3 linked regions of the Homo sapiens genome follow. The protein of the gene in region 1 interacts with the protein of each later gene in a pairwise test. Each region holds a gene or a part of one and is shown in the gene's direction. Other genes may lie near its edges.

Region 1 (3,753 bases):
CCAGGAGTTTGAGACCAGCCTGGTCAACATGGTGAAACCCTGTCTCTACTGAAAATACGTGCTGGGATGCTCCTGTAATCCTAGCTACTTGGGAGGCTGAGGTATGAGAATTGCTTAAACCCTGGAGACGGAGGTTACAGTAAGCTGAAATCACGCCACTGCACTCCAGCCTGGATGACAGAACAATACTGTCTCAAAACAAAAAAAGAAAAGACAAAAAAAGCTATCTTTTAATATACCAAGCACTGGAACATTAATTACTTTATTGATTCCTTGCAACCATTCCTCTGAGGTAGATACTAGTATCTTCTTTTACAGATGAGGAAACTGAGTCCGAGGCTGAATAACATGCCCCGGGTTGTGTGGCTATTGGGTGATGGTGCAAGGATTCCAGAGGTCTGACGACAGAGCCATAGCTATTAATGACAGCACTAAACATTCTCTTGAAAATTCTTTCTAGTCCTGGTATTAGGAGAACTGGTAAGGGAGTTTGTTATGCTTTTATGAGGGGTGGGTGTCGGTGTGCAGAGCTTGGAGAGCTCAGCCCTGCAGCAGAGAGGCCTGGAGGGGCCTCCCGGGGCTGTTTGTAAACTCATGCTTTCCTGTGCCATCCGCAGGACCCTCAGTGCAGGTCAATCTCCCCTCCATTTCAGGGAATCCAGGCTCCAAAAGGACACAGGACTTGCCCAGCAAGGTCATGTGGTGAGGTGAGAGCCCAGCCAGGACTGGTCCCCCCTTTTCATCAATCAAGCTTATGCTCTGGAAATCTATCTGGCGAAGCCAGGAAAACTGGACACTCTCCTGCTCCTTGGTTATTCCCTGAGAAAATGCCAGCAGAAGCAGAGAAAAGCACGTCCCAGGGGTTATGCATTTTGGGGAGGAAGGGAAAAAAAGAGACCAGTGTTTAGGCAGCCGGGGGATGTTAAGTAAAAATATCTCCTCGCTTTCAACGGAGTGAGCGTGTGTCATATTTCAGCCTGATGTGGTTTGTGAAGTTGGAGACCACAGGCAGGCTCAGTTCCTGCTGCTGGCCAGCTTCCCCTTCCCTCTGTCCCTCCCCTGCCATATGCCTGCTCTCGTCTGCCCTGCCTGGGACCACATCAGCAATTTAAGAATAGGGCAGAGAAAAGCAGTGGGTGTTGTGGGCAAGGGTAGGCAGCTGAAGGCCTGGGCTTGGGTCCTGGCTTTGCCAGTGACAAAGTACTGGGTGACTTGGGCTAATGCATGCCTTTCTCTGGGCCCCAGTGTCCATTCTGCACTGTAGGGTGGACAGCATAATGTCAGCCTTCCCAGCTCTGATGGCCTCTGAGTTGGAGGGCTTTGTGCTCCCCACATGTACTTGGGTCCGGCATGTCTGAGACACAAAGTGAGCCCGCAGTGGTGCAACTGGTGATTCAGCTACTGTTCTTGAATTTAATCTTTTCGGACTGAATTGATTGCCCCATTTTGCAGATAAGGGAGTTGAGGCCTAGGATTTGTTGATGTATCCCATTCCCTGCTCTACAAGCAACAATAATAAGGGCCACCATATGTAACACACTTACTATGTATGTTCACCTTTTGCTTTCACTATCTGCTTTAATCTTTTAACAGATCTACGAGGGGAGAGATAGTGACTCCATTTTACAGATGAGGAAACTGAGGCTCAGTTTAGAAAAATGAAAGGACTTACGTTCTCTTCTTTGAGTCTCACAATAGTCCTGGGGTTGTCATTATGTGACCCATTTTACCAGTGAGGAAACTCAGGCCTGGAGACGTGAGCTCCTTTGCCCAGGGGTCCCCAGGGCCCACACACAGCCTGTCAGGTTCCTTCCCAGGCCCTCCTGCTCCTCCCTCCTCCCTTGCTTGCTCTGCCTCATGGGGAGCCTCTTCACCTCTTGCATTCAGTGCCTGGGTTAAGGGATGAGAACAGTTTTCTTCCTGGGCTATAAAGTATCCCTGAAATTGACTCTTCCCAAGAGTGATCCAGAAAGGCTTTAAGCCATGGAGCCTCGCAGGGAACTCCAGTGAAGGGGTCGCACCAGTGGGAGTGGATTCGTTTATTCTGCTGAGCTGGCTAAGCAAACAGTCCTGTTATTTTCCAACCTCAATAAGAATATCATCAGAGCCAAGCTTATTTGCCAAGCAAAGTATATATATTCTACATATGTGAGCCTTCAGGGTGGGGCTTGGCCCTTAATTTCCCTGCTACAGAGACTGTGGCTGAGCTGGGTTTTGGTGGGTACTAAGTAAATACTAGTTAACTTGTTGGGTGTGTGTTGATGATGTGGGTGGCATATGTACTTTTTTCTCCCCACCTCCAAGGACCTTTTCCCCCCACCCTTATTATTTCTATTACACTTGTGATAGAAAATTTAGGAAATAAAAAAGTATATATATAAAAAAGAAGTGTTCATAACTAACCAGAGAAAATCACTGCCAACACCTGGGTGCCCTTCCTTCCTGATATTTTCAGTGCATTTTTTTTTACCCCCACACAATTATCCTATATTTATAATTGTCTGTTCTGACTTTCTGTTTTTTCTCAACATTATATCGTAAGTATTTTTCTCATGTTATTAAGGATTCTTTTTAAATTTAATTTTTAAAAGTTTTAAAAGCATACTATACCTAAGTAGATAAATGTTTATTCTAATTTAAATCTTTTATTCCAATAGTCCTAGGGATTAAAAAATGAAATAATGCTTTTTATTTATTAACAAAAAGGCTGAGAGAAACAGGATTTGCCCAAGATCACCCCCAAAGAACCAAGACTGGGGCTCCCCAGGGCTGTAGTTTGCATCCATAAATACAGAGAGAATAATGTTTATAATCTTGGGTATAAAAACTTCTGGTGAAAAGGTTGATCAAATGCTAGCTGTATTTCTCCCCCTTCCATGGCTTTCTACTGAGTCTCTCTCTCCTACAGGACCCTACTTTGCTCCATAATTAAGCAGCAAAGTATTTCAAGAGCTGTTCAGATTCTAGAAACTCATAGCAGATGAAATCGACAGATAAGTCAGATATCGAATATAGACATTAAAAGATCTGGGCACTAGGCTGTACCCTGTTATTGTCAGTGGCTCTTTAGTCCTTAAACAAGGGTCTTGCCTCCTACTTTTTTTTTGTTATGGTAGAAATAAATGCCCACCCGAGTTTTCATCACTCACTATTATTCTATCTTTGGTGTGCCTGTACCATGTTCCCTTAACAATCCTCAATTATGAAACATTTAGGCAGTTTATAAACAATACTGCAATGAACAACCTAGTGCATACTTTTTTTGTGTGTTCTTCTTTTATTATTTCCTAGAAGTGAGCCCTAGAAATGGAGTTCCTGAGTCAAAATGACACATTTTATAGCTTTTTCTTGTTAAAAAAAAAATTCAGTGACACTTGTGAAAACACGGTAAGGAAGTCTTTATTCAGGAACATTGCCTTGGGCATAGGGACCACTGCAACAGGGTCCTACAGTGAGGGAGAGAGTTTGGGCTCAACTCCTAATACAGCATGGGCGAGTGGGAATTGATAGCTGCAGAGCAGGGTAGGGGTCAGCGGATGGAAAATTACTAAGAGGAAGCTCAGGAATAAGGGATATTCTTGCTAAACCGACCTAACAAAATTATTGATGAAGACAAACCAGGGTGATTCAAACATCAGTGGGGGCATGGTGGAGGATGAGGAGCCTGATCAGATATCAAGGATGAGGGGTTCTGGCTAAACAGACTTAGCAGGATTCTTTTGCTAAAACTGGATTTTACAAGGAAGTGCACAG
Region 2 (3,753 bases), on another chromosome or scaffold:
GCTTTGTTAGGCTTCTTCCTCCAAAGAGTTTTGTAATACTATTGGAAAAATAATACAAAAAAGCCTAGAATAGGGTGGGTTGGATGGGTGGGTAGGTGGAGGGACAGACAGATGAACAGGTTGCTGATGGAAAGCACATCTAACTGTTTCATCGGTATCCTTTCCAAAGGAACACAAGTCTTACAGTAATTTTCCCTCTTCCCCTTTTTGGTTAGGTCTCTATATTATAACAATAGGCTGTCTGGACTTTATAGTTCCCAAGTAAGTGGAAATCAGCACAAGCTTTTTATGAACTACTTAGAGCTACAACTGGTATCTGATTAAAATTCTAATGTAAAGACATTAAGACTATCTCCAGAATTATCAAAAGTTAGCCCAAAAGAACATCCAGGAAATTCTGTTAGGTCTATCTCTGTCTTGTTATAAAGAAATACCTGAGATTTGATAATTTATAAAGAAAAGAGGTTTAATTGGCCCATGGTTCTGCAAGCTGTACAGGAAGCATAGTCCTGGCATCTCTCAGCTTCTGAGAAGACCTCAGGGGGCTTTCTTTTACGCATGGTGGAAGGTGAGGCGGGAGTAGCCATGTCACCTGGTGGGAGTGGGAGCAGTAGAGTTGGGGGAGATGCCACACACTTTTAAATAAAGACCTCAGTACAACTCACTATCTCAGACACAGAACCAAGCCATGAGGGATCCACCCCCAGGACCCAACACCTCCAGCCAGACTCCACCTCCATCACTGGGGATTACATCTCAACATGAGATTTGGAGGGGACATCCAAACTATATCAAAATTAAGAAATTGTTTTTCCTAAATCAAGCAAAACTGGTCCTGTGCAGGAAGCAAACAATATATCAATAATTTCTGTATGCCTGAAGTCCAGCTAGGTTTGCTAAATGAAGAAACCAATAACATCTACCCTCCATAGGATGCAAAAGAGAAAAACAAAGAAATACCCTCTGTTGAATGCTAACTGTGGATAAAGCACTGTGCTAGATGCTTTTTATATGTGAAATTTTACTTAACTTTAAAAAAAAATCCTGTGAAGTCAGTATTATCTGTTCCATTTTGCAGATGAGGAAACAGACTCAGAGAACTCCAGTTAACTTGCCAAGACCACACAATGGATCCATGGCAGAGCTGATTCCAGACCAGCTACCCTCGTGAGGATGAGGATTCAAATGATGTACTTTTACTTCTAAAGGCAGTAGAACAGGATAAAATTCATCATCACTTCTTCCTCTCCCCTAGAAATCTGTAATACACATGAAAATATACCTAAGACCCTTTGGTGGCTGGATACCACTCACCAGGTCTAAGAATGATGGTTTGCTCAATTGCTGTTGGTGGCTGTGCAGGGGAACATGCCTAGCGCCACCCTGTTGATGGTAACACTCTGTCATGGCTGAATGAGCAACTCTTCCTGGAAACCATTGGCATGTACAAGTGTTTAGAGAAGCCAGGCTTTTGTTTCCTCATCTGGTACAAAGGAACCCTTTCTACCCTTCCCAGGAAGACATTGGTTAAGATATGGCTGAGGGAGGCATAGGGATTTTTTTTCAATGGTAGTCACCACAGACGGTTGAGGGTAAATTGGCGTTGTTCTCAATAAGGGTTATTGTGACCATGGTCCAAAGTCTGGCAGGAATTTTTTTTTATTATTAATGTGTTTGCTTTCATTTTTGGTGCTAGGCAGCTGGGACACCAAGGAGAGTTCTGTGGCAAGCCACAAGTATGAAGGCCCAGAACTTCCCCTGAGGGCATAGCTTCCATTTCAGTTTGGGGCAAGAATAAAATCTGCTCAAGGATATTAGTTTGGGAACTTCCTGGTGGTTCAGATTTCAAGCAGAGTTTGTGCTTAATCCTCACCCAGGCACCAAGGCTCAGAGTCAGCAGGAGTGAGTTCAGGAATCCTCGGGACAAGGCACTTTCCTGAGCACTGGACCAGCGACCTCTTGGCTTCCAGTAAGTACTGCTTGGTGTATCTGGTTTGGACTTCCAAGGCTGGGATGATCTAGAAGCTTTTTTGCAATTGAACAATTGCAAAATTGGAAATGGAAAATTTTGCAGATATGCTGTATTTCTGTTATGGGCACTTTCTTCATAAGCTTCCTAGGCTATACTATAGTCAGAGGGAAATAGGACTGACCTCTTGGTATACTGTATTCACCAAATCCAAAATAATGTTATAATAAATGGGTCAGGCAGTGACTGTGGGGAGATTCTCCTGAATGAGATCAAACAGCTAAATCAGAAAGGCTTTCTTTTTTGTTTGGGGGCAATGACAAGAAAAACAAGCAGAACTATGAAAAGACTTAATTCTACTTTCTTAGATAGGAGGAAAAGCAAAGTAGTTAAGGCCAGCTCTCAAGCTAGAATTCTGGTTCTGCTTCTTTTTAATTACATGATCAAAGTAAAGTTGTTTAATCTCTCCGATAACCATTTCCTCGTCTGTAAATGGGCATTGTATCATTGTGAAAACAGTGCAAGCTTTAGAGTACGGTTATGAGGTTAGGATGAGATTTTATATGTATATGTGAAATTATATGTATACATATACATAAAATCTTTCATATACATATTGCTTAGAAGTGCCTGGAATGTATTAAGTACTCAAAAAATGCTACCCATTATTAAACAACCATAGAATCATAGAATATCTGAGCTGGAAAGGACCTAACAACTAGCATTTATTGAGCTTCTATTATGTACTGAGGAGTGCTCATCAACAGGGTATCTCAAGTGATACTCCCAGCAATCTGATGAGGGTAGTAATAACCTTCATGTTACAGATGAAGAAATGGAGGTGTAGAGAAGTATTATAAAGTATCCAAGATCACATTCCTCATAATTCATGGAGATGAAATTTAAACCCAGATGCCAGAGCTAACACTCTAAACCACCACACCCTACTGCCTTATCTGTCCTCTCATTTTACGGTGGGTGGGGAGATGAAGGAGGAATGGTTGCAGCACATGACTCTGGAGCCCTTTGCAGACACTGGAAGGACAGAGATGTCCTCCAAAGCACACTTTGACATCCACAGGGCACAGGGAGGGCAAATGTTATTTGGGAGTGTCCATGAGCATGAATGTGGTGCTGTGTGGAGTTCTGCCAGGGGACCTAGGTCCAAGTCATCTCAGTCTTCTCTCAAATGCAGCTTTTCATTTGTAAAATGAGCTATCTCAGAATGAAGCCATTCTGAACACAAAAAAATAATGTATGCAAATGCATTTTATAAACTTTAAAGGCTTTAGAAATATTTTTTAAAATGATTTTTTGGCTTTTTGACAAACAGCAGCTCAAAAACAGCTTGCAGTAAACACTGCTTTAAAATATGCCACCCACAGCTAATCTCTCCTGCACATTTCTCCGATTGGATCCTTGAGGGCCATCACTCATTAGGCTAACAGCTGCATAGGGGGCGTGGCCAAGTCCTATAAACATGGACAGAGGGAAAGGTGATGGGTTGAAAACCGCTTGTCCCCAGCTCTTCAGGCAGTGAAATCCTTGAAACTGGAAAGAACCTCATGGATTTGATAAGAAATCTCAGGGATAATTTTTTAAATATTATCCATGCATTTTGGGGAGTGGGCAAGGTTTTGAAGAGGTTACGTTCTCTTTCTCACACAGAATTGCTCTTCCAGGAAACAACAGCCTTCGGCCTCAATAGCTTGGCATCTTTCCCAGGCATTATAGCTCATTGCACAGAGCTGAGTGTGCCCGCTACAGCAGGCGAGGGCTAAGGG
Region 3 (3,753 bases), on another chromosome or scaffold:
AAAGAATCCACCACAGCAAATATCGTGTTGGCAGAGATCCAGCCTGACTTTGGCCCTTTAACCACACCTACCAAGCCCAAGGAAGGCTCTCAGGGAGAGCCGTGGACACCGACAGCCAACCTGAAAATGCTCATCAGTGCTGTGAGCCCTGAGATCCGCAACAGAGATCAGAAAAGGGGTTTGTTTGACAACAGAAGTGGATTACCTGAGGCCAAAGACTGTATACACGTAGGTTTTCAGAGGACTGGTTGGAGGCTGGGGAATTTGTTGGGGGGAGGGGGGAGGTTGTAGCTATTAGAGAAGTGCCAGCAATTTAAAGCATCACCACCCGAAGGCTGTTATTAACTTCCTTCGGAGCACCAGAAAGGTTTGGACCCCAAGAAATATAGCTCTGGGAATTCTGAACCTTTGCGTTATTTTCGTTTCAGGCTTTCCTTTCAGGTTTGCCAAGCATTTTGTACTGGCCCCCCTAACCTTTTCTCCCATCCAGACTTTGCAGCTGTTGAAGCTAAGCGTGTGTAAGTTGGTGTCAGTCATCGAGCACAGATGCCCCTAATAAATCTGTCAGACTTTATTTTAGAATAAGACATTGTTTACCTTTTCCTTTGTAGGAACACTTATCTGGAGATGAATTTGAGAAATCCCAACCAAGTCGAAAAGAGAAAAGTTTAGGATTATTGTGTCATAAGTTCTTAGCACGATATCCTAATTATCCCAACCCTGCTGTGAATAATGACATCTGCCTTGACGAAGTGGCAGAGGAACTTAGTAAGTATGCAAAGAACTCACTGAAAGAATTAATAATTAAAGTGGCTTTATGGACTTAACTCCTTCAGACCCCCGCTCATCTAGCCAGTGTTTGTAAATGACACAAATAAGCCGGCATGGAAATTTTCTATCTCTAAAGCCCTCTTCTAATATAAGAATGAAGGTAAGTAGTTGCAAATTTCAGCAAATCTTGGAGGCAGAAAAGTCACAATGGAGGTTGCTTCTGACTACAGTTGTCTCTGAAGCTTTAAAGAAAGGCAATATTGTCTCATGACTTGTTTCACAAAGTTACAACTGTGAACTTTTGCTTCATTGCTCTCCCTTGCTGTTCTTGAAGAATCAGGCTGATAAATGGTTATCTTCCTAGTTGACGCTGAGGATCAGCTTCTGTGAGTGGGAACAGGACCTGTGCACTCCTGGACCTTCAGCACTATTCTGAGGACTAGTTTTCTGAATGTTTTGTGTTGGGCACAAGTTATTCCTCCTGCCCCTTTTTACTCTGTTCAAAGACCTGAATCTATTTGGAGCTAAAAAGGGGCCCGTGGTGAATTTGGGGTACCTTTGGAGTCATGTGGGTATCTTAATTTAAACCTGTGAAGTGATGTGCTGTGCAAGATAATACATTTTAATACAAAGCAATCACCCCGTGAAGAAAAGTTGCCCTTCTAATACATGTTTGTAAATATCAACTTTATTTCACATTTTAAGAATATACCGTTTAGATTCATCTACTTTTCATATATGCTTAATGGTAGCTGGGTAGGATATTCAGCAAATATCTATTAATCTTCTACTACTATGTGTCAGGCAATGTTGTAGGAGCCTGGGATACATCCGTAAACAAAAAGGGCAAAATCTCTTCTCTCTTAGAACCTATATTCTAGTGGGGCAATAGATACTGAGTAAAGGATATAGGAAGTAAGTAAGGATAATACATGCTAGAAGGTAACATGCATAGTGGAAAAAATAAATTGTAGATCAGGATCAAGGGATCAGGAGTGCTGGGGAGGTGCTTTGCCATAAGTGGTCAGATCAGGCTTCGTTGAGAAGGTGACATCTGGGCAAGGACTTGAAAGAAGCAAGGTAGGGAGCTGTAAGGACATCAGGGAGAAGGGTTCCAGGCAGAAGGAACAGCCGGTACAAAGCAAGTGCATATCTGGCAGGTTCCAGGGACAGCAAGAGGTCGGTAGGATGCACCCTTATTAAAATAGTGTTTTATTGATCACTTTTCCAGAAAGGCTGATCTCATCAAATATTTAAATTGAAATTAAGTTTCTTGAACGAAGAGAATTCTAACATTACAGAATATTGAAAACCCAATTTAAATAGATAGAGTCACAGAATTACTAATATCATATTGTTAATGATAGCTAGAAAGTAAGCAAAATTAGACCCAAAAAGGCATATTTTATTTTTATGTAAGTTTTTAAAAACTACATCATGGTTTTTGTACTTTTCTGAAATCTCAGCATTTTGTTTCTATCTTATGATCATTACAGATGGGCGTGTGTGTACGTGTTTGTATTGGAAGCGGTTGGAAGGTGTGAGATGTAGAGTTTTAAAGACTTGGTTTGCTACTTGCTAGCTCTTTTGGGGTGAGCTACTTAGCTGGTCTGAGCCTCTGTTTTCTCATCGTTTTTTTTTTTTGTTTGTTTGTTTGTTTTTGAGACGGAGTCTCGCTCTTTCGCCCAGGCTGGAGTGCTGTGGCGCGATCTAGGCTCACTGCAAGCTCCGCCTCCCGGGTTCACACCATTCTCCTGCCTCAGCCTCCTGAGTAGCTGGGACTACAGGCACCCGCCACCACACCCGGCTAATTTTTTTGTATTTTTAGTAGAGACTGGGTTTCACCATGTTAGCCAGGATGGTCTCCATCTCCTGACCTCGTGATCCGCCCTCCTCGGCCTCCCAAGGTGCTGGGATTACAGGTGTGAGCCACCGCACCCGGCCTTTCTCATCCTTTTTAAAGTGCAGATCATAATACCTACTTCACAAGTTTAGGGTGAAAACTTCCTAAAGCTGTGTAGCACAACTTAGGCCCTCATTAAATGTTGCCTTTCTAATTCATATGATTTGTGCCCTTGGAAAGCAAGCACATGTCTTTCTCACCTTCACAGTATTTGTTGAGTATGTTCACTTACAGTTAGGAAAGTGATATTATCCAAGACCTACTGACTAATAAACCAATGGAAGAAAAAGCTATTCAATTCTAAACACGTTACAAAAATCTGTAACACACAATTGCACATTCTTTGTAGATGTTGAACGTCGACGCATTTACGATATCGTGAACGTCCTAGAGAGTTTACATATGGTGAGCCGCCTCGCCAAAAACAGGTACACTTGGCACGGGCGACACAATCTCAACAAAACCCTTGGCACCTTGAAGAGCATCGGGGAGGAGAATAAGTACGCCGAGCAGATTATGATGATCAAAAAGAAAGAATATGAGCAAGAGTTTGACTTTATTAAGAGTTACAGTATAGAGGATCATATCATCAAATCAAACACTGGCCCAAATGGACACCCAGACATGTGTTTTGTGGAACTCCCTGGAGTGGAATTTCGGGCAGGTGAGAGATGGTAGTGAAAACTCCAGGCGGCATGGCATTTGTCCTCTGTCTAAGGAAAAGGTTCTGTGGAGAACACAGCTCTAAAGCTACTGCTGCCTTTAATGTTCAGATGCCACAGTTGTCAGCTGTATGATCAGGTGGTAGTATTTTTAGCCTTGTTACTTTAGAAGTCACTTGTCCCTTTATGAATTTTAATTCTCTAATCCTCATCCTTCTCTAAAGCTTCTGTAAACAGCCGCAAAGACAAGTCTTTAAGGGTAATGAGCCAGAAATTTGTGATGCTGTTTTTGGTGTCAACGCCTCAGATAGTAAGCCTAGAAGTTGCTGCCAAGATTTTAATTGGGGAGGACCATGTGGAAGATTTGGATAAAAGCAAGTTTAAAAGTAAGTGTCATGACTGCCATGGATTTTTGAA

What was found.
Region 2: the proteins of GSN (region 1) and PLEKHS1 interact in binary tests that used the Homo sapiens proteins (3 or more experiments, as listed by UniProt).
Region 3: the proteins of GSN (region 1) and E2F8 interact in binary tests that used the Homo sapiens proteins (3 or more experiments, as listed by UniProt).

The regions. Positions count from the first base shown.
Region 1 is NC_000009.12:121,271,157-121,274,909, forward strand, and holds part of GSN (gelsolin), read left to right. Parts: intron 1-653; exon of another isoform or gene 654-707; intron 708-3,753. UniProt on the Homo sapiens protein: Calcium-regulated, actin-modulating protein that binds to the plus (or barbed) ends of actin monomers or filaments, preventing monomer exchange (end-blocking or capping).
Region 2 is NC_000010.11:113,749,793-113,753,545, forward strand, and holds the start of PLEKHS1 (pleckstrin homology domain-containing family S member 1), read left to right. Parts: upstream 1-1,889; 5' UTR 1,890-1,969; intron 1,970-3,753.
Region 3 is NC_000011.10:19,234,329-19,238,081, reverse strand, and holds part of E2F8 (transcription factor E2F8), read left to right. Parts: coding exon 1-228; intron 229-611; coding exon 612-768; intron 769-3,023; coding exon 3,024-3,338; intron 3,339-3,560; coding exon 3,561-3,722; intron 3,723-3,753. UniProt on the Homo sapiens protein: Atypical E2F transcription factor that participates in various processes such as angiogenesis and polyploidization of specialized cells.